Linked DNA regions of Homo sapiens: all the other regions are linked to region 6. The links come from fine-mapping of genetic effects on gene expression. A gene starts in region 6. Each other region holds a variant in brackets. All regions are shown on one strand. Distances are between the middles of the regions. Region 1 overlaps ALG9 (ALG9 alpha-1,2-mannosyltransferase). Region 2 overlaps ALG9 (ALG9 alpha-1,2-mannosyltransferase). Region 3 overlaps SIK2 (salt inducible kinase 2). Region 4 holds the start of LAYN (layilin). Region 5 overlaps SIK2 (salt inducible kinase 2). Region 6 holds the start of PPP2R1B (protein phosphatase 2 scaffold subunit Abeta).

What was found. PIP is the estimated chance that this variant, and not a neighbour inherited with it, causes the effect.
Region 1: its variant is the best candidate, but not a certain one, in a credible set for the expression of PPP2R1B in tibial nerve (GTEx, PIP 0.57).
Region 2: its variant is the best candidate, but not a certain one, in a credible set for the expression of PPP2R1B in tibial nerve (GTEx, PIP 0.82).
Region 3: its variant is the best candidate, but not a certain one, in a credible set for the expression of PPP2R1B in thyroid (GTEx, PIP 0.89).
Region 4: its variant is the best candidate, but not a certain one, in a credible set for the expression of PPP2R1B in ovary (GTEx, PIP 0.83).
Region 5: its variant is the best candidate, but not a certain one, in a credible set for the expression of PPP2R1B in nucleus accumbens (GTEx, PIP 0.72).

Annotation. Positions count from the first base shown.
Region 1 is chr11:111,796,991-111,801,079 of GRCh38, reverse strand. The region is part of intron 14 of ALG9 (ALG9 alpha-1,2-mannosyltransferase); the gene reads left to right. LOC124902756 (a long non-coding RNA gene) reads right to left here. Exons shown (of 2, transcript XR_007062891.1): 2 at 1-4,089. Among named protein-coding and RNA genes, the nearest start is that of PPP2R1B, 33 kb to the right of the region's middle. RefSeq lists a silencer at 3,792-3,871. The variant A/G (reference allele first, on the strand shown) is at 1,745.
Region 2 is chr11:111,833,436-111,837,524 of GRCh38, reverse strand. It overlaps ALG9 (ALG9 alpha-1,2-mannosyltransferase), which reads left to right. Exons shown (of 15, transcript NM_024740.2): 12 at 1-57; 13 at 1,231-1,360. Among named protein-coding and RNA genes, the nearest start is that of ALG9, 36 kb to the left of the region's middle. The variant C/A (reference allele first, on the strand shown) is at 2,137.
Region 3 is chr11:111,723,360-111,727,448 of GRCh38, reverse strand. SIK2 (salt inducible kinase 2) reads right to left here. Exons shown (of 15, transcript NM_015191.3): 15 at 1-3,953. The coding sequence ends at 3,320. It also overlaps a transcript of PPP2R1B not described here. Among named protein-coding and RNA genes, the nearest start is that of PPP2R1B, 41 kb to the left of the region's middle. RefSeq lists an enhancer at 3,607-4,089. The variant C/T (reference allele first, on the strand shown) is at 2,424.
Region 4 is chr11:111,539,391-111,543,479 of GRCh38, reverse strand. LAYN (layilin) reads right to left here and starts at 2,760. Exons shown (of 7, transcript NM_178834.5): 1 at 2,552-2,760. The coding sequence starts at 2,636. RefSeq lists an enhancer at 2,978-3,657. The variant G/C (reference allele first, on the strand shown) is at 1,528.
Region 5 is chr11:111,640,181-111,644,269 of GRCh38, reverse strand. The region is part of intron 3 of SIK2 (salt inducible kinase 2); the gene reads right to left. Among named protein-coding and RNA genes, the nearest start is that of SIK2, 40 kb to the right of the region's middle. The variant C/T (reference allele first, on the strand shown) is at 2,123.
Region 6 is chr11:111,764,530-111,768,618 of GRCh38, reverse strand. PPP2R1B (protein phosphatase 2 scaffold subunit Abeta) reads left to right here and starts at 2,230. Exons shown (of 15, transcript NM_002716.5): 1 at 2,230-2,371; 2 at 3,235-3,325; 3 at 3,714-3,814. The coding sequence starts at 2,258. It also overlaps a transcript of ALG9 not described here. RefSeq lists enhancers at 2,165-2,214, 2,235-2,414, 2,301-3,204.

The DNA.
Region 1 (4,089 bases), 32 kb before region 6:
TCTTAGACCCTAGATAAGATGGGGCTGCACACCTCACTATTCTCTAGCTCTTTCTGAGAAAAGAAAAAGGTTTTAATAGGCCTATGACACATAGCCACATGATTTGTTTAGAAATGTAAGTAGGTTAATTTCTCAAATGTTTAAGTTCCTAAAATCTAACCCTGCTTTTTTTATGGTTTTTCTCAGATCATTTGTTCTTTCTTCCATTGTCTGTCTGTCCACCCATCACTCATCTCCAGTTAGCAAATATTTATTGAACATTGCCAGGCACTATGATAAATCATAGGTAGACAGGGATAAATAACAGTACATACCAGGTCGCTGTCCTCTTGGACCTTACGATACAATGGTGAGGCTGACCTTAAACAAATAGCCACACAAATCAATAGGTAATTACAAAATGTGTTATGTGTTGTAAGAGGAAAGTACAGGGTGTTGCAAGAGGAGTGAGCAGTGGGGAGACACCTGGAGTTTTCCTGGTATGTTCTTAAGTCAGCTGGTTAGGCAGGTTTGGAGATCAGAAAGTATTTACTGAATATCTGGTATGCCCTTGTTATAGAGTTAGATTCTTTTTTATTTTATTTTATTTTTTATTTTTTGAGACGGAGTCTCGCTCTGTCACCCAGGCTGGAGTGCAGTGGCATGACCTTGGCTCACTGCAACCTCTGCCTCCTGGGTTCAAGTGATTCTCCTGCCTCAGCCTCCCGAGTAGCTGGGACTACAGGCGCGTGCCACCATGCCTGGCTGATTTTTTGTATTTTTTAGTAGAGACAGGGTTTTACCATGTTAGCCAGGATGGTCTCAATCTCCTGACCTCATGATCCGCCTGCCTCAGCCTCCCAAAGTGCTGGGATTACAGGTGTGAGCCACCACACCCGGCCTAGAGTTAGATTCTTTAAGGCACATAAAGGAAGTGATTAGACACAGGCTTTTCCCTTGAATAACTTACAACTTTTGCAGGAAGACCTACACATATGAAAACAACTTGAAAATAGTGTTAAGACCATAGAGGCACCAAATCATGTGCTAGAACTTTAAAGAAAGGAGGGACCTGTGGAGATTAGAGTACACTTAGAAGGCTTCCAGAAGGAGGGGGTGCTTGAGCTGAAGAAAAGTAGGATTAAATAAGTACTGGTGGTAAGGAGGGAAGAACCACTTATTTAATTCAAGAAGCAATCATGAGTAAAAGTGGAAAGATATAAAATGCCTGTTGGATGAGGGGCCCATTAGTCAGCATCAAAAAGTTCTATTTACCTCTTTGGCTGGTTTGAATTTGCTTTTATGTAAGGTAATCTATAATGTATCATCCACATCAGAAGTCTTTTGAAAGTAAAAGGGGTCCTGTCCTGGATAAATTGAAATATATGGTCATCTTGCTTTAATGTGACCCGAGCAAAGAGACTTGTTCCAAAAAGCAGGATGGGAGAAAGAAGATACATAGATATATTTTCTTTGTTCCATAGTCCATTTACTATGTGGATTTGCCCATGGTTTACTTATTTGATTTAACTTGCTGACAATTCTTATTATTGTGGCCTAGATTGGGCCTCAGCTGTCTGAAAGAGAAGCAATCAGGGTAGTTTGAAGGCAGTACCAGCATGTTTGTTTGTTTGTTTAAAAAAAAAAAAAAAAAGGAATCAGCCGGGCACGGTGGCTCATGCCTGTAATCCCAGGACTTTGGGAGGCCAAGGCGAGCGGATCATAGGTGAAGAGATTGAGACCATCCTGGCCATAGTGAAACCCC[A/G]TCTCTACTAAAAATACAAAAATTAGCTGGGCGTGGTGGTGCATGCCTGTAGTCCCAGCTACTCGGGAGGCTGAAGCAGGAGAATCACTTGAACCCGGGAGGTGGAGGTTGCAGTGAGCCGAGATCGCACCACTGCATTCCAGCCTGGTGACAGAGCGAGACTGTCTCAATACAAAAAAAAATTATACTGTGAGTTATATGTAATTGGAGTTTCCACTTCAGGGAGTTGCAACCTAAAGATGATTGGGACAATTTTGTGATTGGGGCAAATTTAGGAATTCCACATGTCTGTGAATGTATGAAGAAGCCTGTTGAAATTGTTGCAAGATAAGCAACATCCTTATTGTTGGAGTGATGGAGAAGTACTTACTAAATAAGGCTAAGTGGTGTTAGACCATTTGGGAGAATGACAGCCCAGATGTTCGTTCACTTCTTTTCCTAATTGGCTGCTTCTTTGCCTTATTAGAGGCCTACAAACCCCAGACCCCATTAGTTTGAGAGAAGATCCAGGCATAAGATCTTAATCAACACGTTCTAGTCCCTGCTCACACAACTAGTACCAGAACTGCAACTTCCATTCCCTGAGTTTGCCATGTCTCTCTGGCTAATTTTATAAAGGTTTATCAAACTCTTAGGATGCGGAGTCTAAACTATTTGACAATATCACTTTTTAGACCAGACACATTTGTTACTCTGTGGCCATCTCATATTACATACTTTCTAAAATAAAAGATTTTTTTTTCTTTGAAGCATGATATAATTGTTACATGAATGAAATAGCTGACAAGTGGGCAGATGTAATGCCTACTCTGAGAGTCCCCAGAGAGGAGTGAAGGGAGAGTGTTGCAATAAATCACCAGCTCAGTGGTGGGTGCCTATCTAAGTGTGCTGAGAGATGTTTGGTTGTGGGAGTCTGGTGGGAAATGCCTCTCCAGGATATTGGAGTTGGCTTCATGAGCAACAGGGCCTGTTTGTAGCTTCGGAAACAAGTTGGGAGGCCCTGTCAGTGCTTTGCACAGCCACTTTCCACCCACTGTCCTCCTTCATTATATGTCCCTTTTGTCTTGCTTGCTCTGCTTTCACCTTTAGTTTGGGGATTGTGAGATTTTATTTTTCTCTATTTTTTTCTTTTTAAGACAGGGTCTCGCTCTGTTGCCCAGGCTAGAGTGCAGTGACACAATCTCTGTTCACTGCAACCTCCACCTCCTGGACTCAAGCCATCCTCCCATCTCAGTCTCCCAAGTAGGTGGGACTGCAGGCACGGACTACCACACCTAACTGATTTTTGTGTTTTTTGTAGAGACAGGGTTTCACCATGTTGGCCAGGCAATTATAGATGAAGAGTAAATACAAATAAGGAGTTAGATGTTGAACCTTTAGCTGGTATGGCAGGAGAGGGGCCTTTTCTAGTCAAAGGGCAAGTTGGGGACTGTGCTGATATCATATACGCTTATTATGTTCTTTCAGTGCCTACGTAGGATTCTCAGTGGCCACTGAACTTTAGCTGTTCTGGGGACTTTACTAAGACCATGGCTCTCCTTTTACCCTCTAAGAGGTGAACCCAGCAGCTCTGAGGCCTACAGAGTCCATTGCACTTATATTCATTTTTGTCCTATGTTGTAGAGAGTAATCTGGTTGAAGGGAGCCAGCCCTTAGCTCCAGCATAAGCAGAACTATTTCTCTATGGAAGATAAGACGACTGGAGTGATTACTGTAAAGGGCAAATTAGCCAGAAGCATTTGTTCCAGCTATTGCTGTGTAACAGTCATCCATACTTAGTGGCGTAAAACAACAATAGTTGATTATTGTTTCTTCTCGTGGTTCTGGGAGTTGATGGGCTCAACTGGCCAGTTCTTACTCAGGATCTGTAATGCATTAGCCATCAGATAGTGGCTGGGGCTGGAGGCAGCTGAGTGGCTTTCTCACTCATATGTCTGGATGCTGGCTCTTGGCTAGATCTCAGCTGGGGCTGTCAGCCAGAACACCTATGTGTCTTCTTTATGTGGCTTGGGCTTCCTTATAGCATGGTGGCTGACTTCCAAGAGTAAGCATCTCAAGACCTGCATAATTTTTTATGACCTAGCCTTGGAAGTCACACAGTATCACTTCCTCCTCATTCTGTTTGTTGGCAGCAAGCCAGTTGAATAGCTCATGCTCAAGGGGAAAAGAAGTAGACTTCCCCTGTTGATGGGAGGAGTGTCAAAGAAGTATGGACATGCTTTAAAGCCACTACTTATCTTGCAATGCCGTTCTCCATCCAAATTGGATAAACTTTGAAACTTTTCTTTTTAAAGGTGATTTCTTACAGAAGAGGCATATAGTACATGCAGTAGTCCAGCAGGCTT
Region 2 (4,089 bases), 69 kb before region 6:
TGTCTGTGTGGGAAAAGAGTGGTATCGATTTCCCAGCAGCTTCCTTCTTCCTGACAAGTAAGTTGTCCTTTAATTCCTAGGGTTTTAAATGAAGGAGTAAATAGAGCAGTTCTATATCAGTGTCTTCTAATTTTTGTTTTCTTTTGGAGTTTTCACAGAGAGTTATTGAATTATCTACCACGTCGGAGAGCTGTGGGGCCTGTGTACTGTGTACCTGCCTCCTGTGTTCATTAGGCTTATTAGGCTGAGGGCTGGGTCTAGGTAGACATTCTGCACTGCCCATAACTGCAGGTGTCTGGGGACTTCTGAAAATGCCCTGGGTCCTAGGCTTTTGCCAGTGGCTCTTCGTGGGGATTCATATTTACATTTCTATAATGATCTGATGTTAATCCTCTTCTAAAAGTGGTCTAGAAACTCCAGCTAGAAGAGAGAAGACATTCTTGACCCAACAGTAGTGAAAGTTCTCCACCATTATGTGGACACTGGGGAAGGCTGTGGTTAAAATGTCTATACCAGTTTCCTTTATGCTTTCTGTGGTTCTGAGAGCATAGGCCCTAAAGTTCTTTGTAGTTTGCTTCATTTGGCCAGAGAAGAGTCCTGTGTAGGTTAAAGGGAAATCTGGTTAAGATGAGTCATGTTGCTCCATTTGAGAAATGGCTTCAGTAGCTTGGCTTTACTGGGTAGTAGTTTCTTATGCTTCATAAAGACCCTGTGTCAGTCATTAATGATTAAATTAAAACTTGTTTTTTAAGTGTTGACTTTAGCCTTTGCCTTTTACGTTTGAAATAGTTTTATAGATAAAGATATGTTTGAGGGTTACTCCGGAACAAAGTATTTCTCCCATAGTGTGTTCTCAGTGCCATATATTACATTTCATTCTTTTTCTCTACACCTGATAATTTGCTTTATTTGATAAGTCTCTCTGCCCACATAGTAATTGACAATAAGCATTGGCACTTCTCTGGTTTTTTGATGATATGACCATTTGGTTGTGAATTTCACTGCTAACAGTTGGTGAAATGGGTCAAGAGACATCTAATTATAAATTTCTCAATGATTTTGGACTGACTTGTGACCTCTGCCTCTGTGCTCCCTGGTTGAGGTTTTAGCAGAAATATTTTTTCTTCAAGAGAAATGTTTTTCACATGATTTTCCTGGCTTGTTTGTTTCAAGTACATTTAGCAATATTATCCCCCTGTGTTTTTCTTATTCTCCTTGTGTTTCTGACAGTTGGCAGCTTCAGTTCATTCCATCAGAGTTCAGAGGTCAGTTACCAAAACCTTTTGCAGAAGGACCTCTGGCCACCCGGATTGTTCCTACTGACATGAATGACCAGAATCTAGAAGAGCCATCCAGATATGTAAGGGCTACATTCTCTTCTTGCTTCTCTGAAAAGAATTCTATGCCTAAAAGTCTGTTGGTGTGTATATTAGAGCATTGATAAAATGAGAATTTCTTAGAAAGCAATTTTTTTAAGGCCGGGTGCTGTGGCTCACACCTGTAATCCCAGCACTTTGGGAGACGGGCGGGATAATTGCTTGAATTCAGAAGTTCGAGACCAGCCTGGGCAACATAGCAAGATCACATTTCTACAAAAAATTAAAAAATAAGCCAGGTGTGGTGGCTTATGCCTGTAATCCCAGCCTTTCAGAAGGCTGAGGCAGGAGGATCACTTGAGCCTCGGAGTTCAAGGCTGCAGTAGGCCATGATTCCGCTACTGCACTCCAGCCTGGGCAACAGAGTGAGACCCTGTCTCAGAAAAAAACCGGATATTTTTTAGGATGAGGGGTATAACAGCTTTTGTTGAAAAACAGTAAACAGTATCACTTTTATTTTCAAATTAACCTCTTTATTTTCTATGTAAAATGTATAATTTAATTTTGAAGGTTTTGGGTAGGCTGAAAGTTTTCTTACGGTAGAAGTTTGAACCATTATTCTGAAACTCATATCATTCCTTGGCCTATTAAAATCCTTAATGAGGAACTTTCAAGTTATCAGGTGGACCTTTGACCTAGCTATTAGTATATTCCGGTTTTAACAAATGAACAGTAAAGACTGTTTCCATACTGAATGCCAGGGAGCAGCCTCTGTCAGGGCCATGATCTTCTCCCTACTTGTCTTTACACATTCTGAGAT[C/A]CCATGCGAATTTTACTTCAGTTCCTTTGAAAGATGACACTTTTGACATTTGATACCTGTGAAATCTTTGATAATGAAAAAGGTAAGAAGTAATAAAGATAATGCTCCTTTTGGGTCACAAAGACAGTGTAAGATCGTTGTCTAGAATTATTAGAAAGCACATTTTTTGATAACCTGATAACCTGTCCGTTAAAGAAATATGTAACAGTTTAAATGTCAGCTATATTTAATTTACATTTTCTTATGTCATATGCTTAAAATGTAAAATAGCAAGACTTCCAATTCTCTTCTGAAGCAAACCTGCAGCCACATCTGGTCTTTTGTCTCCCAGATTGGGGCTGGTTAGAGTTCCATGGAGACCCTCAGGGTTTATGAGTGAGATTCTTATTGTATGAGCTGTAACTATAAGCTATGAAAATGGACACTTAAAGACACAGCCTTGAGCTGTTCCCTTGTAAGACAGGCGTTTCTGCCACATGGATTGTATTAGAGCTTTATTCTTTTAATTTAAGGCTCTGATTCCTGTTACAATGGAAATACCCTTGGGCAGGGTAGACTGTTACAGGTCATTTTAATTTTATCTGCAGATATGAGTCTCCTGAGTGCAGGGCATCATTCTAGAGAAGCTGGACAGTCAAAGGGTGGGAAAATACACTGTCATAGGGGGACAGTATGAATTCAGAGTGATGTTATCGGAGCTTTGCTTTAGGAAGAGGTAGTAAAAATGGAGTAGTAAAAAAAAGAGCGTGGACTTTGGAGTTGAGTAGGCCTGCATTCAAACCTCAGCTCTGTTGCTAAACTTGATAACCTTGGGCAAATTAGTTAGCTTCTCTGTTTAATTTCAGTTTCTGTCTGTAAAATGGCACCTACTTTGGAATTATGATATTTGATATTATATCTCTCTGTAGCAAAAATGCAATGTTCTTATGCTTGCACAAGTGTTCTTAATCTGATAATGGTATATTAGACAGATTCCAGGTAAAGAAACCCAATCTCTCCCCTTCCTTCTTTTTATTGTTTCCCATCCTTGTAATTTTATTCCAGTGTCTCCAGACTCATCATTGCGTTTTCCACCCCAGTGACTTCGCTTATATTGGTGACTATGCCTGAACTACCCTTGTGTCTCTTCTCACACTATCAAAATTATCTTCCTCTTTGAAGTGAACTATTTAAGTCCATATTGAGCAGACCTTCCTTTAAGTGTCTTCAGTATTTATCTGTGCAGTTCATTTAGCCATTTAATTTTCTTGGTCTTAGTTAAATATTTCTGATATCATATCTTTCCACATCAAATATGTGAATGCCATGAAGAGAATGACTGCACTTTGTTTCTTTTGTGTTCACCATAGTGTCTAGGACGGTGTCATGTACCCAGTAGTTCACTTTTACATGCTTTCTCAGTGGATAATGAATATTCATCGTCATTGTGGTAATGATGTTGAGAGAAAGCTGGCTAGAAAATCTACAGTGGCCTTTTGCACATTTCTTAGGCTTTTATCACTGGTTGTCTTAGTTAGATCATATTTCCATATTCTCTGCTGTCAGACAGTGTTAAATTTGATTAAATGACTCTATATGAGCTTTACCCGAAAGGTGATGATTTTTCAGGATGCCAGTAGGAGTCACCAAAATGCTGGCTGATAAAAGCAGGGAAAAACAAGTGATTTATGTCTGCTGGGTAGCAGCTGTGTCCAGCCCTTTGAATGCGAGGATTTTTTTGCTTATCTGTGGTGGCAGAATCATGAAAATTAGGCATGGACCTTTAGCTCTGGGTGGCAGGTTTTAGCCAGCCTTTGGCTTCAATGCTAAGTGCTCCAGCCTGTCCCGTTTCTATTGTGCATGGAAACGAGGAAAGTTGTATGACTTTTTTTATTTCACTATTTTCTTTACCTCTGGGCTAATCAAGAATTAGGAGTGAATAAGTGTAAAGGTTCTGTGGTTTGTACTGTACCA
Region 3 (4,089 bases), 41 kb after region 6:
CTGGCTTCAGTCTTGGGCTCCTGTCTGTCCCAACCACTGACTCCAGCATACGGTTTAAACACTTGGGAGTTCTTGATATCTGAGGAAGAAAGGGCCACTGACTTTTTCTTTCCTAGGAGGCAAAAGTGGATGGAAGAGAGAAGGGGTTTGCTCAGATGGGCATGAACAGCCCCTGAGCCCCATCCCCACTCCCCTGGTGGGCCCTGATGCTCTCCCACGCAGGGATTCTCAAGGTGGATGGTGTAGAGAACCATCAGCCTCCTTTTCCCACGGTGACAGAAGGCAGTGCAGGCAGAGGTGGCGAGGGGGCAGCTGGGGACGGTCAGTGTCACCGGGAATGTGAAAGTGGGCCCCCTCTTCCTGTCGGGCTAACATGCTGTTTGCCTTACAGGGACCAGTGTATCAGTTGCGTGGAGATACTAGAGACACACTTGCCCAGCTGGGAATTGCAGAGCTAGTGCATTTCTCCCAAAGCACAGACTAATACCCCAGATTTAAAAAAAGAACATAAAAAATAAAGTACCACACATATTGCACTTTTTGCCGAACGAAATTTTTACCTCACGTTCATCTCACCAAAGTCTCTTCAGAGGAGCCTGGTTTACAGGGTGATGAAGCTGATGATGATACAGTAGTGTACACACTGCTAACGTGAATCAGACTGGAAAGCAAGTCAGTACTTCAGAGTAGCCCCGCAGAAAAAGAGCGATACTAAGCCTTCTTAGTGTTTTGTTTGTTAGTAGTGATGAAGAGAAAACTGCTTGGAAGCTTCCATGGGTCACTAGTTAGGGACAGAGCAGCACAGGTGATCAGACAGGGCTGAGCAAACACCTGACTGACCAACAGAACCAGTCTCCTCAGCAGCTTACATTGCAGTCAATACAGAGGGTTATGGAATTTATTGATTTCTGCTTGAAATAAACAAGATAAGCAAATAGGAGCTTACAACACAGGTCCCAGCAGGAGGGGTCACGCTCTGCATCAGGCCGGTGTCCACGCCGCTGCCGTGTGTGACGGATCCTGATAGGCCTGGCTGCTGTAGGGCACCTCTCGATTTCTCTCTGGGTCCTTAACCTTCCAGTAGCCTCTCTGCAGTCCCTCATCGGCTGGCCTAACCGTCCTGCCATAGCTCCCAGGTCTCCTGGGCTAAGCAGCTCATGGCATTGTTGGGGGGCAGGAGTTTATGTCGATCTGTAACTACACCATTCCTGCAGTTCTGAAATGAGTGGCCCCCATTTTCAATCTGCAGGCATTTTAATATCGCAAATATTGTAGCACTTCTGTAGTATATTTTGGGAAAACGTCTTCCTTCAGTCTAAACAAATCAAGCCCCATTTTATAACTGGCTATTTTGTAAAGACTCAAAACAGATTAGAGATCTTAATGAAATGATCTCTTAAATGAAATGATGTTCTTTATTTCACGAAATCATCAATCTTAAGCACGAGCAGGAATAAACAACTCCCAGAAGAAGCTTAATTCATTCTTCCTGGATTTTCACTGTGTGTTATTAAATCACAAAAATGACAGTCCCCACACTGCCCTTTCCCACTGACACCAAGTCCAACCGTGAGCACAGTGCCTCTGCGAAGCATCCTGGCACCCATGGTGAGCGCTGGCGACCAGGCAGTCTCTGGCCAGCAACAGGGACTGCTCAAGTTACCGACGTTGGTAGGAGCTGGGCTCGCATGGCCAGAATGGAACCCCCTAGACTTTCCACACGTCACCTGCCTGAACGCTAACTACAAAGAGGAAAGGCAACTTAAAGGTGTTTTCTAGATGCAGCATCAGTTAGTCCCTCTCTTTGTGCTTTAAGGAAGATGCTTTGTGCTTAACACATTCATCTGCTGATGGGACAAGCCATTCTAAAGGGCAGAAATGATCATCTTTAGAATTAACACTGACTTTGTAACACCTGGATGTTAACTGTCCAAATGGCAAATTATTCATCATTTCTAGGGATACAGTTAGCTAGCTGTAGCATCTAATTTTTACTTACTTTGATGACTGAATTGTAAGTGTTGGTTAAGTTTTATTAGTAATATAATGTTTGGCAGATGATCTGCTTAAATGGTTAACACATCTGTGGTTCTTTCTTTGAATATTGCTGTAATACTTGAACATTTCATTACAAGTCAAAACTTTAACGAAATTAAGAATGCTGATTCCCACATGGTGGAAAACAAACTCTGAAGTGACTTTGGATTTAGCATTGACATAAATGGAAACTGTTGGTTTCTACAGAAAAGAAAGAATTAAAGCATGATCTGGGGGAAAGGCACCGCACTACCACTTCACATGGGACAGAAAAGTTCATTTATCATGTCCTTAAAATCTCTAAGCCCTATATGAAACTGTCCAAATATACAAAGCTCAATAAACTACTAGCAACATATAGTGTAAGGTCAAAGTAGTTATTACAT[C/T]GGAAAAGAGACAACAGGTACCCTGGAGACCGACTGCCCGCAAGCCAGCAGTGTCCACGAGAAACTGCAGGAAGAGCCTGTCTTCCCTGGCCCAGGGCTGGTGCTCTTGATGCGTTCTTGAGTTTCTTGCCCCCTGCCTCCACGGTGGCGGGTCTCCTGTCAGTTCCACGTGTGACACCTCTGGAGTCCTGAGTATATTCTGACACTCGGCAACCCAGGGCACCTTCTGAAGGGGTGTGTCACCTGCTTCCGAATGGAGATGAAGGCGGTTTCTGGGGTCAGTACCAGCTGTTATTTAGTGGCCCCTGAAACACAGCTCATGCCCCACTGCTTTGTGATGGCCTTGGGGGACAACTTGCATCAGCAGCTAAGAACTTAGGATTCAATGACAAAGCACAGCTTTCCTTTATTTCCTGTGCATCTGATTTCCTGATGTCTTCTTGATTTGCCTTGTAGCAATATGTGGTTGCTCAGCTTCAGTGAAAAATATATTGCCTTTTCCCCCATATATATGCAATAGCACACACCCTTTCTGCTTTCACCAAGGTTGCCCTTGATAATAAACGGATGTAATCCTGCATAACACCTGGGTCTGAATGTCTTCTTAGGAACACATTTGTCAGTGCTGCCCTCGAGAGCTTGCTCCACTCGACCGAAGGGCAGGAGCCTCAGCCTACAACTATGTTCCAGCACTTGCCACAGAAAACTTTGTGGTGGGGCAGAACCAGGAGGAAGCAACATCCACCCCAGCCAGACCCTCTGATTCCAGTTGGGTGGCTCGATTTCTCCCCGTTAGGGAGAGGGCAAGAAAATAAGCTTTAAATTTAAAAGGCTGGAATAAAAATAGGAACATACACTCTTCCTTCACCTGACCCACCTCAATTCCTGTGCTGAGACTAATTCACCAGGACATACCCGTTGTGTTGTGGATCCACAGCGTCTAGCATTTCACAATCAAAGAGTCCAGGTAGCTCAGAGAGGGCTAGTGGGTCGTAGCTGGAGGGGGCCTCTTGCAGTCCTGGGCTTCTGGGACAGTCTGGCCCCGTTAGGTCGCTCTGCTGGGCTCCATCCACAGGATACTGACAGGGAGTGGGATAGTCTGGCGCAGGGGAAGCAGCGCTTGGCAGCTCACAAGTCTGATAGGAGAACTGTAAGGGGGCTGGGGCAGCTCCTGGCTGTCGTGGTGGTGGAGGGGGTGGTGGCGGTGGCGGCTGCTGCTGCTGTAGCTGCGTGGGCAGAGGAGGAGCAGCCCGGGGACCGGAAGTGGAGGGCAGGGGCTGAAGCTGCATCTCTTGGTACTGGCTGAGGAAAGGGCTGTATTGCATCTGCTCGGAGGAAGGCTCCAGGACGGGGCTCAGGGGCTGGGTCAGGCTGAACGGTGGGGCCTGCTGAGAAGGCGGTGGAGTCTCCTGGCGGGGAAGGGGCAGCTGCTGACTTGGCTGTGGGTAGGAGCTCTCTGCTATCTGCATCTGATTAAAATAGGCCTGCAGTTGAGACTGCTTCTGAAGAAAGAGTCGCTTCTGCTGGAGCCTAAATTGGTAATATCAAAGGAAAGAATTTTAAATCTTCTCAAGTGATGGCAATTTTAATGTAAATGCAATACCAGTCACTAGCTTCAGTCTTCTACTTAAGTCTCTCTCATGTCAGCAAAAACAAGTGGGAATGG
Region 4 (4,089 bases), 230 kb after region 6:
AACCCTCTGCCTGTGCAGCAGGACTGAGAATTTGCCCAGTCTCTGGTGTAAGCAGAAGCTAAAAGCATCAGATCCACGGGGTTTTCTGCTACTGACAGTCAGCCCTCTGACCTAAAGACAACAGTTAAGGTTTACTGAACTCCTACTATGTGCCATAAACTATGGTAAGGGCTTAACATTTACTTACATACTTTATCTCATGTAACCCTCATAATAGTCCCCTGATGCAGATACTGTTTATGGCTTATTTTACAAATGAGAAAACTGGAGCTCAGGGAAGTTAAGTAATTTGGCCAAGATCACACAGTGATCATCAGCATCACCGGAGTTAGAGCCCAGATCTAATTACAAAATCATGCTGGTACCAGTGAACTAAATTGCTAGCTCCCCGCTGCACCCCAGGCTCATGTTTTACTGGGAGCCTATGTAATGTGTCTTATCAGTCTGTCCCCTGAAGGGCTGAAGATCATCTCAGACAAACAGATGGGATTTTACTGAGGAGCCAATAACAAATCGCTCACAGTACACACTGCTCTAGCTTGCGTCTGTGTGACTGAAGCCTTGCTGCAATGGAGACACTAGCCTCATCACTCCTTTCATTCAATCAACATTTATTGAGTGTACACTTTGTGCCTGGCACTGTGCGAGGTGCTGGGAATACAGGAACAAAAGCTACTTCCTAACCCACAGGAGCACACAGCATATGTTTCCGGATTCAAATGTTCAAAGTGAAAACCACGTATCAACACGGGGAGTAGTCCCCCTGCAAAGAGAAAGCCAAATTGTGGGCTGTGGGTGCGAACTGCTGCCACAGTGCCGGGGGTAAAATATTTTGGTTTGGGAACCTCCTCCCAGAACTTCTGGAATGTTCTTGTTTTCCCAACTTGTTTTACAGCTGCGCAGGGAGCCAGATAGCATTCATTAATTCCCAACACTGGCCAGCATATAGGGCAAGGGGCCACAGACAGATAGAACTATATGATTAGTGCTAAATGAGAAAGAGCACATACAGATTATCCAGAAAGCTCCAGTGAGTCTTCATTTTCTATTTCTTCTCTCATCACTTTCATAAAGGAATTCTCAATGAGCAACAAGTTATAAGAGTTCCACATCTTCTCCCTTTTCCTGTCATTATTTGGCTATTGCTGATAATAGAGAAACTCTAATTAGACTGGTCCAGCAGCACATTAGGAGGGTTCAAAAGCCAGACCTGCTTGCAAGAAGGTATTCAGAGAGGCTGAGGCAGGGATACCCCCGGGAAGGGGGCTGGGCCAGCCACGCTTTTGCGATTCCTCAAAGCTGGCTCCAAATTGGGCAGCAGAGGAGGGGCAAATGAGCCCCCAGGAACTTATCCAACCTGGCCACCGGCATAACATAAGCTGGAGTTGAATTTCCTGACAACCCCCACTTTCCATGTTGGATTGTCAAGGGAAACATAACACCTTAAGCGAGTTTCCTGTATGGTCCAGCCTGGCCACACATCCGAAGTCTGCGGGTGAGTGCCAGAGACCGTCAGAGCTGGAAGGA[G/C]GCCCGCGGGCCTATCTGGTTCTCCTGCCTTCAGGAAGTGTCCTTCTCTTCTCATTTGCAGGAAGGCGAAGGGTGGGAGGGCCTTCTGTTCCCCGCGACCAAGGACAGAGCCCACGCAGCCCTAACCCAAGCAGCTCAATTCAGCTTCCCACCTCTTTTGCCGCCCCGCCCCCATCCTGAAACCAACTTTACATTCTTTAAATTAGTTTCGCAAGCCAGGATGCCAGAGTAGAGGAGGTTCCCAGTCTCCTCTGTCCCGTTTGGTCAAGCTGTTGGCACCCGCAAAAAGGATCTGAGAAAAGGGCACGGATGTTCTCCCCCCGACATGCAGAACAACTGAAAGAAGCCAGAAGCCAGAGCACTTTACCTCCTCTGAGGTCCAAATCCGAGGCTGCAGTGACACAACAGGAGGAAGGAAGCAGAGAGTCATTCCCCGGAGTCAGGTGGGGCTCGTCCCACACTAACTGGAGTTCTTTCCCGATCTCTAAGCGCTCTCATACCGGGCGCTCGACCCAGCCATCCAACCCCGCAGAAGAGACGAGGAGTAACAGGCAGGGTTCCCACGGCACCGGGGATCCAGCATCCCTACCCCGCTGTCTCTGCGGCCGCCTCCCGGAGCGGGCGGTAGGCGGGGGCCAGCTGGCAAGCCTGCCCCGCGGGGGTGGTCCCAAGGACTGATTCGATGCGTGTAAAGGAGCGGGCCGAAGGGGCACCCACTGGGGCAGGTTTGCCCACTGCCCCACCTCTCCTACATTCTCCAACCCACCCCCATAACTCTGGACTGGGAACGGGCTTCGAGCGTTCCAGGACGCGCAGGGAACTGCGCAGCTCCGGGAACTGGCGTGGGTCTCAGACGCCGTGCGACTGCCCCCAGAACGCAAGAGACTCCGAAGGGCTGCGTCTGGGAGTGGGGCATGGGACGGCCTTCTAGTCCCATACGTGGCGACCCAGAAGAGGGTCAGCAGCAGCTGGGGTGCAGTGAGCCCACCCCGGCACCAGCCCCCGCCCCAGCGCGCGCACTCACCACTCAGCAGGCGACCCGTCGCGGCCCGCAGCCCCACCAGCAGCACGGCCAGCAGCACGGCCTGTAGCGCGGTTCCCGGCCTCATGGCCCGACTCGGGTGCGCCCCCCGACACTCGGGCGCTACGGCGGTGGAGCGGGCTGGCGGGCAGAGGCGTGCGCGACAACTGCAACCGCGGCAGCAGCATCTCTAGGCCACCGACGGACCGCACGGGAGGCGGGGGGGAGGGCGCGGAGTCAGTCGGTCGCCCCTCCGCCCCCTGGGACGTCACTGCGAGGAGGGCAGCCCCGCTGGCTGGCCCGCCCCCGACAGCCTCCTCCAGCGAGGTTGGCGCCAGACACTCGGCCAGCCAGAGAGGGGCGAGTCGCAGAGGGGAACCAGCTCCCTGTCCCCCTCCGAGCTTCCCTGGGAGATCCCGCGTTTGCCCGAGGCGCTGGGCGGAGGAATACTTCAGTCGGGCCCCTAGGCAATCTGATAACGAGCACAGTGTGCCTAAAACTAGCACCACATCTCACCCCTCCTCTCCCGCTGACCTTAGCCAAGTTCGCCAGCTGTGCGGGTGCACCTGGAGAGAGAGGCGATGCGTGGACTCCTACCTGGGGCTCAGCAGGCCGCAGTCCCAGCACGAAGGGCGACGCCTGAGCAGGGAATGGTCGATGCAGAGAACAAACACTCACGCAGGCAGTGTGCCCACCGGCCAGGAAAGTTATGGGACACCGCGCGGATGGCATCCAAAGAACTTGGCTGAGTTGGAGCCCTCCCGACTGAAAGGAAAGCGGCTTCTACCAGAAGCCAAAAGATGTCCCAGATCCCTGGAAGGAAATGATTCTGTTTTTTGCAGGGAACAGGTTGGGAGGTGGGGGTCATAGTTAGGGAGTTCAGCTTTGGCCCCTCGCCCCGCAGGAAAGAATGAAACTATTATCTCAGGAAAAGCTTTCCTAACCTAGCCCTCAATGTGTGCTTCCTCTTGTAAACTCCCAAAGTAGGTGTGTTTCACTTTGGTTTCGTAAACAAAATGCTTTTAAATATAGTCAAGCAATAGAGTGAGCCATCTGTCCAAAGATTAAGGCACTAAGTAGCAGAAGGTGAATCTGACTTTCTGCCTTTTCTGCCACACCATGCTGCTGTGAAGCATAGCAGAAGCCCCATCTGGGCCACGACCTCTGGATTTTGGTTCCAGCTTGCTGCTTCTTACGTACTCTTTCTGCTTTTCAAAACAGCCAAGAAAGCAGTGATGCTTCTAAGGCCTCTAGCCACTGCAATTCTAAACAAACAGCCTGAATACAGGCTGGGGGTGAGAGGGGAGTGGGATGAATTTCAGTATCAGCTGAGACTATGGGGGAGCTCTGCTGCGGCACGTAACAGCTAACAGCGGTTGTGGCAGGATGAGGCCTGACCTTTATGGCAAGATCATTTATAGACCTTCCTTCTGTCCCAGTTAGAATACGTCAATGTCACATCTAACACACTTTCTTCTTAGAAATTCTTGGTTATCAAAACAACTTGAGAGAACTGTTATGGTGAAAAGAAGCACTGGAGT
Region 5 (4,089 bases), 120 kb after region 6:
GTCGCCAGGCTGGAGTGCAGTGGCGTGATCTCGGCTCACCACAACCTCCGCCTCCTGGGTTCAAGTGATTCTCCTGCCTCAGCCTCCCAAGTAGCTGGGACTACTGGCACAAGTCACCATGCCCGGCTAATTTTTTTTGTATTTTTAGTAGAGATGGGGTTTCACTATGTTGGCCAGGCTGTTCTCGGACTCCTGACCTCGTGATCCGCTCGCCTCAGCCTTCCAAAATGCTGGGATTACAGGTGTTAGCCACCACGCCTGGCCTCTTTTCTTTCTTTCTTTTTTTTGAGATAGGGTCCCACTCTGTCACCCCAACTGGAGTGCAGTGGCACAATCACAGCTCACTGTAGCCTCGACCTCCTGGGCTCAAGTGATCCTCCCACCTAAGCCTCATGAGTAGCTGGGGCTACAGCTGCACAGCACCATGCCTAGCTAATTCTAAAACGCCCAATGAACAGTTCTTTTTTTTTTTTTTGTCACCCAGGCTTGAGTGCAATGGTGTGATCTTGGCTCACTGCAACCTCTGCCTCCCAGGTCCAAGGGATTTTCCTGCCTCTCAGCCTCCTGAGTAGCTGGGAGTACAGGCGCGCACCACCATGCCCAGCTAATTTTTGTATTTTTAGTAGAGACGGGGTTTCACCATGTTGGCCAGGCTGGTCTTGAACTCTTAACCTCAGGTGATCTGCCAGTCTCGGCCTCCCAAAATGTTGGGATTACAGGCGTGAGCCACCGTGCCCAGCCTATACATTTGCAATGATTGCCTGTCTACTCTACATTTTCAAATATAATTAACTTTTTTTTTTTTAAGTTCTGGGATACAATGGCAGAACGTACAGGTTTGTTACATAGGTATACGTGTGCCATGGTGGTTTGCTGCATTTATCAACCCATCATCTAGGTTTTAAGCCCTGCATGCATTAGCTATTTGTCCTGATACTCTCCCTCCCCTCGCCCCCAACCTTCCAACAGGCCCTGGTGTGTGTTGTTCCCTTCCCTAAAATATAATAAATTTTTAAAGCAAAACAAATCCTACTCATCATTTAGTTACTTAATGCCTAGGATGTGCAAAAGCACTTTACTAGGGGTTGAGGATATAGTAAATGAATAAGAAATAGATCCTGCCCTCAAGAAAATCACAGTGGGTTGAAGAAAGATACATAAACCAATAATAATAGTACTTTACAATAGACAAAACCATGAGAATGAAAGAAAGGCCTCTTTTAACTAGCGGACAGATGAGAAGGTTTCACAAATAAAGTGAAATCTGAACTGAGCTATAAAAAAAACGAAGAAATTTTGCCTGGTGAAAATAAGGGTGAGGGAATTATAGAGTTGCAACAATAAGAATATATATTTGGTCTTTGTCTCCACTTCCAAACAGAGAGCTTCTAAAACCTATGGTATTCCTAAGTGACAGGAATATCTTTTGTTACTTGTAACAAGCCCCTTTCAACCACACTAGAGTTTATGCTAATGAGGTGACTAGTGGTGAGTCCCCAGACACTTCAGGATGGACACTGGTTGCTAGAGGAACCAACCATGTGACTAGCGGGTTGGTACCTTCAGTTCCACCTCTGGGAATCTAGAGAGGGGATGGGGGTTGGAGATTGAGTTAATCATCAAAGGCCAATGATGTACTCAATCATGCCTATGTAATGAGACCTCCATAAATACCCCACAGACAGGTTTTGGAGAGGTTCCAAGTTGTTGAACACACTGAGGTGCTGGGAGGGTGGCATCCCAGAGGCATGGAAGCTCTGCCCTCCCCCTATACCTTGCTCTATGTATTTCTTCCGTTTGGCTGTTTCTGAGTTGTATTCTTTATAATAAACCAGTGCATGTAAGTAAACTGTTTTCCTAGGTTCTGTGAGACGTGCTAGCAAATTATAGAACCTGAGTAGAGAGTCATGGGAATTCCCAACTTTGTAGTCAAGTGGGACGGAAGGTGTGGGTAACCTGGAAACCTGCTACTTGCAACTGGCCTCTGATGTGAGGGCAGTCTTGTGGGAATGAGCCCTTAAACCTATCACATCTGAGGCTAGCTCTGCGTAGTTAGTATCAGAATTGAAATGAATTCTAGGACACTCAGTTGGTACTGGAAAATTGGTTGGTGTGGAGGGAG[C/T]CCCTCCACCCTCCGCATTTGGTGTCAGAAGTGCTGGGAGTGAAAAACCGTTCAGAAGGGTGATGGCAAAAGTGTAGGAAAACATGGAGCATTCCAAGAACAGGGCAACCAAACTGACCTGAGGAAAGTGAAAGAAGAGATTAACATTTACTAAGTCTGGTACTGTAGTACCAGAAATTTTAGTTTACCTTATTCATACATCAACTATTTTACAAATGAGAACCTGAGACTCAGAAAAGGTAAGCGACTCTTCCAAAGTTACTTATGCACACAGTTAAATAATGGCTGAGCTGGGACAAGAATCCCAGTCTGTGATTCCAAAGCCCATTGTCTCTCATACGGTACACATAGGGAATAACAGGAAATGAAATTGGAAAAAAGAGCTAGGTCTACACTATAAAAGGTCTTAAGTGCCAAAGAAGTTGGTAGGCAAGGAGGAACTGCAGAAGATTTTTAAGAAATAAAGTGAAAATCTGTGCACAGGAAAGACTGATAAGGGAAATAAAGAGGCAAGAAACCACTTGGGATCCTAATCATGAGCTGAAAATGAATTAATGAGGGACTAAATTAGGGTTAAGGCAATGAAAATATAAAGTAAACAAAAGCAGAAAATATAAAGTAAACAAAAGCAGAAAATAAGATATTTCAAAGAAAAATCTGTAAGACTAAGCAACTAATTAGATATAAAAAAGAATGAGTCCAAGGTAATTCAGGGTCAGAAGAAGAATGAATGGTCAAACTGCTAACAGAATTTTGAATATGGGAAGAGCTTATTTAGGAGGAGAAGAAGGTAATGTGCCCAGTTTGTAATTTTCTTTTCAACAAGTCAGTAAGTAGGGACCTGGAATTTAGGGAAACGTAAAGGCTCAGGTTATGGATTTGAGGTTCATCTGCCTAGAGGCCTGAAGCCTTGGGAATACAGAGCTCAGTGAGGGAATGCATAGAACTCCTTCTCTTACAGGACAGGAAAATGAGATAGACAATGGTCTTAAAAGTAGGAAAAGAAAACAGTCACAAAAGGCAATTTCCAAGAAAAAAAGAGAATGCATGCTAAGAGTCAAGTTGCTGCAGTGAAGTTAAAGAGGGTGAGGACTAAAAAGGAGGTAAATTTCGCCATTAGTTCACTGAGGCCTTTACCAGATGCTATACTGGCACCGAGTTTGTAACTTTATGCCTACAAATACTATATTTGCAGACCATCCTGTCTAACATGGTGAAACCCCGTCTCTACTAAAAATACAAAAAATTAGCCGAGGGTGGTAGCGGGGGCCTGTAGTCCCAGCTACTCGGAAGGCTGAGGCAGAAGAATGGCGTGAACCCGGGAGGCGGAGCTTGCAGTGAGCTGAGATCGCGCCACTGCACTCAAGCCTGGGCTACAAAGTGAGACTCCATCTCAAAAAAAAAAAAAAAAAAAAAAAAAAAAAATTGCCTGTTTCTTCTGACTTTCTAAAGAACTTTTCTCATAGTTTCCCGTAGCACTTATAGCATAGTATAGCATAGTTCTAAGTGTTTTTAATTCTCCCTTAGATAGTACCCTCCTCCTCAAATACCAAGACAGGAAACCCAGTCATTATTTCTTGAATGAAGGGCCAAATAAATGGTTCATAATGGGATAAAGAAACAAAGAGAAAATGTTATACTATTTAATGTTTAACATTTAAACATTAAATGTTATTTTATGTTTACATTTTAAGAACAAAGCTGGATATTTACATTTTAAGAACCCCCAATATTTAATGAAAAGCAAATCTATCTTAAAATGATTGTGCATAGGCAGGGCAAAAGAGATTATTCTGCCTGTTTCAAGATAGCAGACTGGGAACCAGCTAGTTTTCTCTCCTACATCAATTCCTGGAAATGAAAGAAAATTAATTAACAGTCACACAAGAACAAAAGGAACTGATGGACTAGCAACTGGGAATATTTTGTGATTTACAACAGACTAGATCAAACTAAAGAGGAAAATC
Region 6 (4,089 bases):
TAAGTCATTATTATTATTATTTTAGAGATGGGGGTCTTGCTGTGTTGTCTAGGATGGTCATGAACCCCTAGGCTCAAGTGATCCTCCCACCTCAGCCTCCCAAGTAACTGGGAAGACAGGCACGCGTTACCATGTTTAGCTAAATTGTTTTTATTATGCTGTGGTTATTTAAATTTACGAATATAAAGTAGGAAAAATGTGCTTTTATTTCTAGTTCTTACACAGCTAAAAAAAAACCACAACAAATTTACAAATTAAATACAAATGAAACCACAAAATGAATACTATTCAATTAAAAATATTATAGTAATTTAACGTGACAAATGATGTATTTTGCTAAAACTGTCATCCGTCGTATTGTTACTATGGTGTTGCCTGCTATAGCTCAGCTTCTTTTGTGTTCAACATGCCTATGCCACCAAGTGACTCCTGATATCTTAATTTTCTCACCATTTTTCTGTTACAACTACCAAATAGTGCAATCTCATGATGCATTTGGCTTTCATTTTGTGCATGAAAGTATCATTGTCATTTTAAAACCACCTCTGTTCTTTTCTCATTATCCCAGAACAATAAAAGCAGCACTAAAACACACATGTAAATGTGGGTGCTGAAATTGTGTGGCAATACTTGGTTGTAAGGTGGTCACCCAAATAATTCAGAATATGCTTATACAAATCTAAAAAATATGAAAATGAAAATAAAATTAAAACCCTAGAGAATACATTCGCAGACATAATTTGAGAAAAACTGTTCAGGTCTGCTGGTTCCCAAACTTTCATTACTATCAAAGGCTCTAGCTATTGTGCTTACTTCCAAGAACCCCATTTATTTATTTATTTATTTATTTATTTATTTATTTATTTATTCATTATTTCATTCATTCATTCAAAGGCTCTATTGTGCTTACTTCCAAGAACGCTATTTATTTATTTATTTATTTTAGAGACGGGGTCTCACTCTGCCGCCCAGATTGGAGTACAGTGGTGCGATCCTGGCTCACTGCAACCTCTGCCTCCCGGGCTCAAGCGATTCTCATGTCAGCCTCCCGAGTAGCTGGGACTACAGGCTCCCGTCACCAGCCCAGCTAATTTTTGTATTTTTTAGTGGAGACAGGGTTTCACCAAGTTGGCCAGGCTGGTCTCGAACTCCTGGCCTCAAGTGATCCGCCCGCCTCGGCCTCAGAATCCCATGTTTTAAAAAAGTTTGTCTCCTACACTGCATTTATAGTTTTATTAATCAGGCACATAGAATTACCATTTCGGAGCTTGTGATCACCATATGTAGTTATCACTCCAAGCTGCTTAAATTCCAGTCTAAAACAAACAAAACATTCTAATTATTCTGTGCTACCCTGACAGGGGTAAGTGAAAACTTTCCATTCAGGTTTGTAAGAACGAGCTCCCAGACCTCCACCTCTTCCCCTTGCTGCCTCTGAGGACTCTTGGAGGTCTAGGGAGGCCAGTTTGGGTTTTCTTGCTCAAGAAAGTAGCCACCCCACCCAATTTGGAAGGATTAAAGCTTGTCCTAGTTTTGCTTCATTGTTGTACTTCTAGCATGCTAAAGAGCTAAAAAATGGGAGGAAGAAAATACAACAGAAGGCACCATTCCAGTACCAAACTGAAAAGAAACACAAAAACAAGAGAGCAGCATGTTTTTAACAGCTTGCGTGGAAAAAATATTGACTGGGGAGTTTGGACAGCACTGTTCATTTTCTCTCACCGCCCGCGTTATTTGTCTTACGGAGCAGGAGCCAGATACCATTCTGGAGAAAGAGCCGCGGGAAGAGGTGGAGGGGTTCTGTGGAAGTTTGAGTCTGAGCGGAGAAATTAGGGCTGGAGATCCAGTGGCTCAGGGCCAGGAAGAAGTCAGGGGAGGTGCTAAAGCCTTTTTCCTCCTGGCCTCGGGCACTCTCTTTGGTCCGCCTGAGTCTTAAGAGGGCACAGCGCAGATCATTCAGGTAGGTTCCTGGCTCCTTCAGACTACAACGAGCTGGATGAATCCCTGTCCCTGTTTCTTTCGGCTGGGGAAAGGACGCAGGGGTTCCATTCGCTTTCTTAGCCCACCCGTCTTCTTGAGTTCAGACCTACAACTCCTGCAGTGGGGGTCAGAAGGGAGCCTTAATCATCGGGACAGAAACGCGGCTCCCCAACTTCGGCTAAACCAGCGTGGCGGCCTTCGTCCCTACTGCCTGGGCGCGGGGCGGGGCCTGGGCGCGGGGCGGGAGGCGGTGACCAGCAGCAGGAGGAGAAAGAACATGGCGGGCGCATCAGAGCTCGGGACCGGCCCAGGAGCAGCGGGTGGAGATGGAGATGATTCGCTATACCCGATCGCGGTTTTAATCGACGAGCTCCGCAATGAAGACGTGCAGGTACTGGACTGAGGCCGGGGACCCGAGGCGAGACCGGCTGGTCGCGTGGTAGAGAAGGGGGAAGGCCTGCGTCGCGGTGGGGGTGGCCGAGGTACTGAATGAGTCGGACTCGTAGCAGAAACTTGAAGGGGAGGCGGGGAATGCTCCGCGAGGGGCTGTGGTGACACGCCCCGACCCTCCCGGGTACCTCTCTAGTAACCTTGCTTCGGACCCCCTGAGGCGTCCGCCCGGAGCCTTGCCCTTCCCGGGCGGTTGTCGGGGAACCCGCTTCCCGCCTGGGCGCCCCATCCGGGCCGTGAGGTGGCCGCGTCTCTTGGGCGAGGGAGCAGGAGAAGCGCGGTGCCAGGCCGAGACGGGGCTGGAGCGGCTGAGGGGCGCAGGATGCCCAGAAGCCCTTTGAAGTGCCCCTGGATCCCTTCATCTCGGCTTGGAACTGGCTCGGCTTGTTGGGTAGAAAGCGGGGGTGGGATGGCCGATTAATCTGGACGAGTAGTGTATCCGCTCTGTGGGAACTTTTCTTTGAAACCACAGGTGTTGTATTCAACCGTTTCACCTGCTTCACCACTGCCAAAGTGCTCTCTTTTTAAAATTATCTTACTTCCTAGGTGTTGTATTGTCTTTCCTTCATTTCTCTTCCGGTCCCTTCTGAGTGTTTCTCCTGGGAAATCCTCCGCCGGCTAGTGAGGCCGAGTTACACTTCTTTTTGGAAGTCCTTATGAGCTTCCTTAACAGTAAAATCTAAATGAAAGGTTATCTTCATTCTTACCCCTGTGTCATAATTTCACCTGTTAGCACCTTTTGTCTTTTGATCTAAATTCAGCCGTTTCTTTACATTGTTCTTCTTTCTACTTTCTTTTCTGAAGCTCCGACTCAACAGTATTAAGAAGTTATCAACAATTGCCCTAGCACTTGGAGTAGAAAGGACCCGAAGTGAATTGTTGCCATTTCTTACAGGTATGTGAATCTTTGTTTAAAGAAAGGTAGGGACATTCCATTTTCCAGTAGCTTTCAACACTGACTTTTTTAGAGTTTATTACCCACATTAAAATGAGCCAGGTGTTTTTTGTGCAAAAGAAACAGAACAGAGTATATTGTTAGTTGTGGCTAGATATATTCAAACATCAACCATTTAGCTATTGAAAGTAATTGATACGGGAGTATGAATTTCTAATTCGTTGTGCAAAGCAGATACAGGAAGACGGTTGAGAAGAAAGAAAATGCTGTTAGGATTTTGACTGGGTCACCTTCCTGGTCGCATAGTGAATCTGTTCCTAGTTTTGTGTCAGTGTCCAGCTGTGGGAGAGCTATCCATGTTGATGAGTCCTGTTGTTGTCACTTCCAGATACAATTTATGATGAAGATGAGGTACTATTAGCTCTTGCTGAGCAGCTGGGAAATTTCACTGGCCTAGTGGGAGGTCCTGACTTTGCCCACTGTCTGCTGGTGAGTATTTATAAGCTGCCTACCCTCCTTCTACAACTTTTGCAGTATAAATGATACATTGTTTGGTGATAGACACACTGCAGCATTTTTTATGCAGATCTTTTTATGGGCAGATAGTCATAATGTTAGTCATTGAGAGAATAAGTACTGTAGGCACTTTGCACTCAACTCCTTTTTTTTTTTTCTGTAAATAAGAGAACTTCGTCCTCCTTTTCTGCGTCTGTAGACTTATTAGTTTAGATGTAGGGAGAAAAAGGGTTTGATTGTTTTTATGG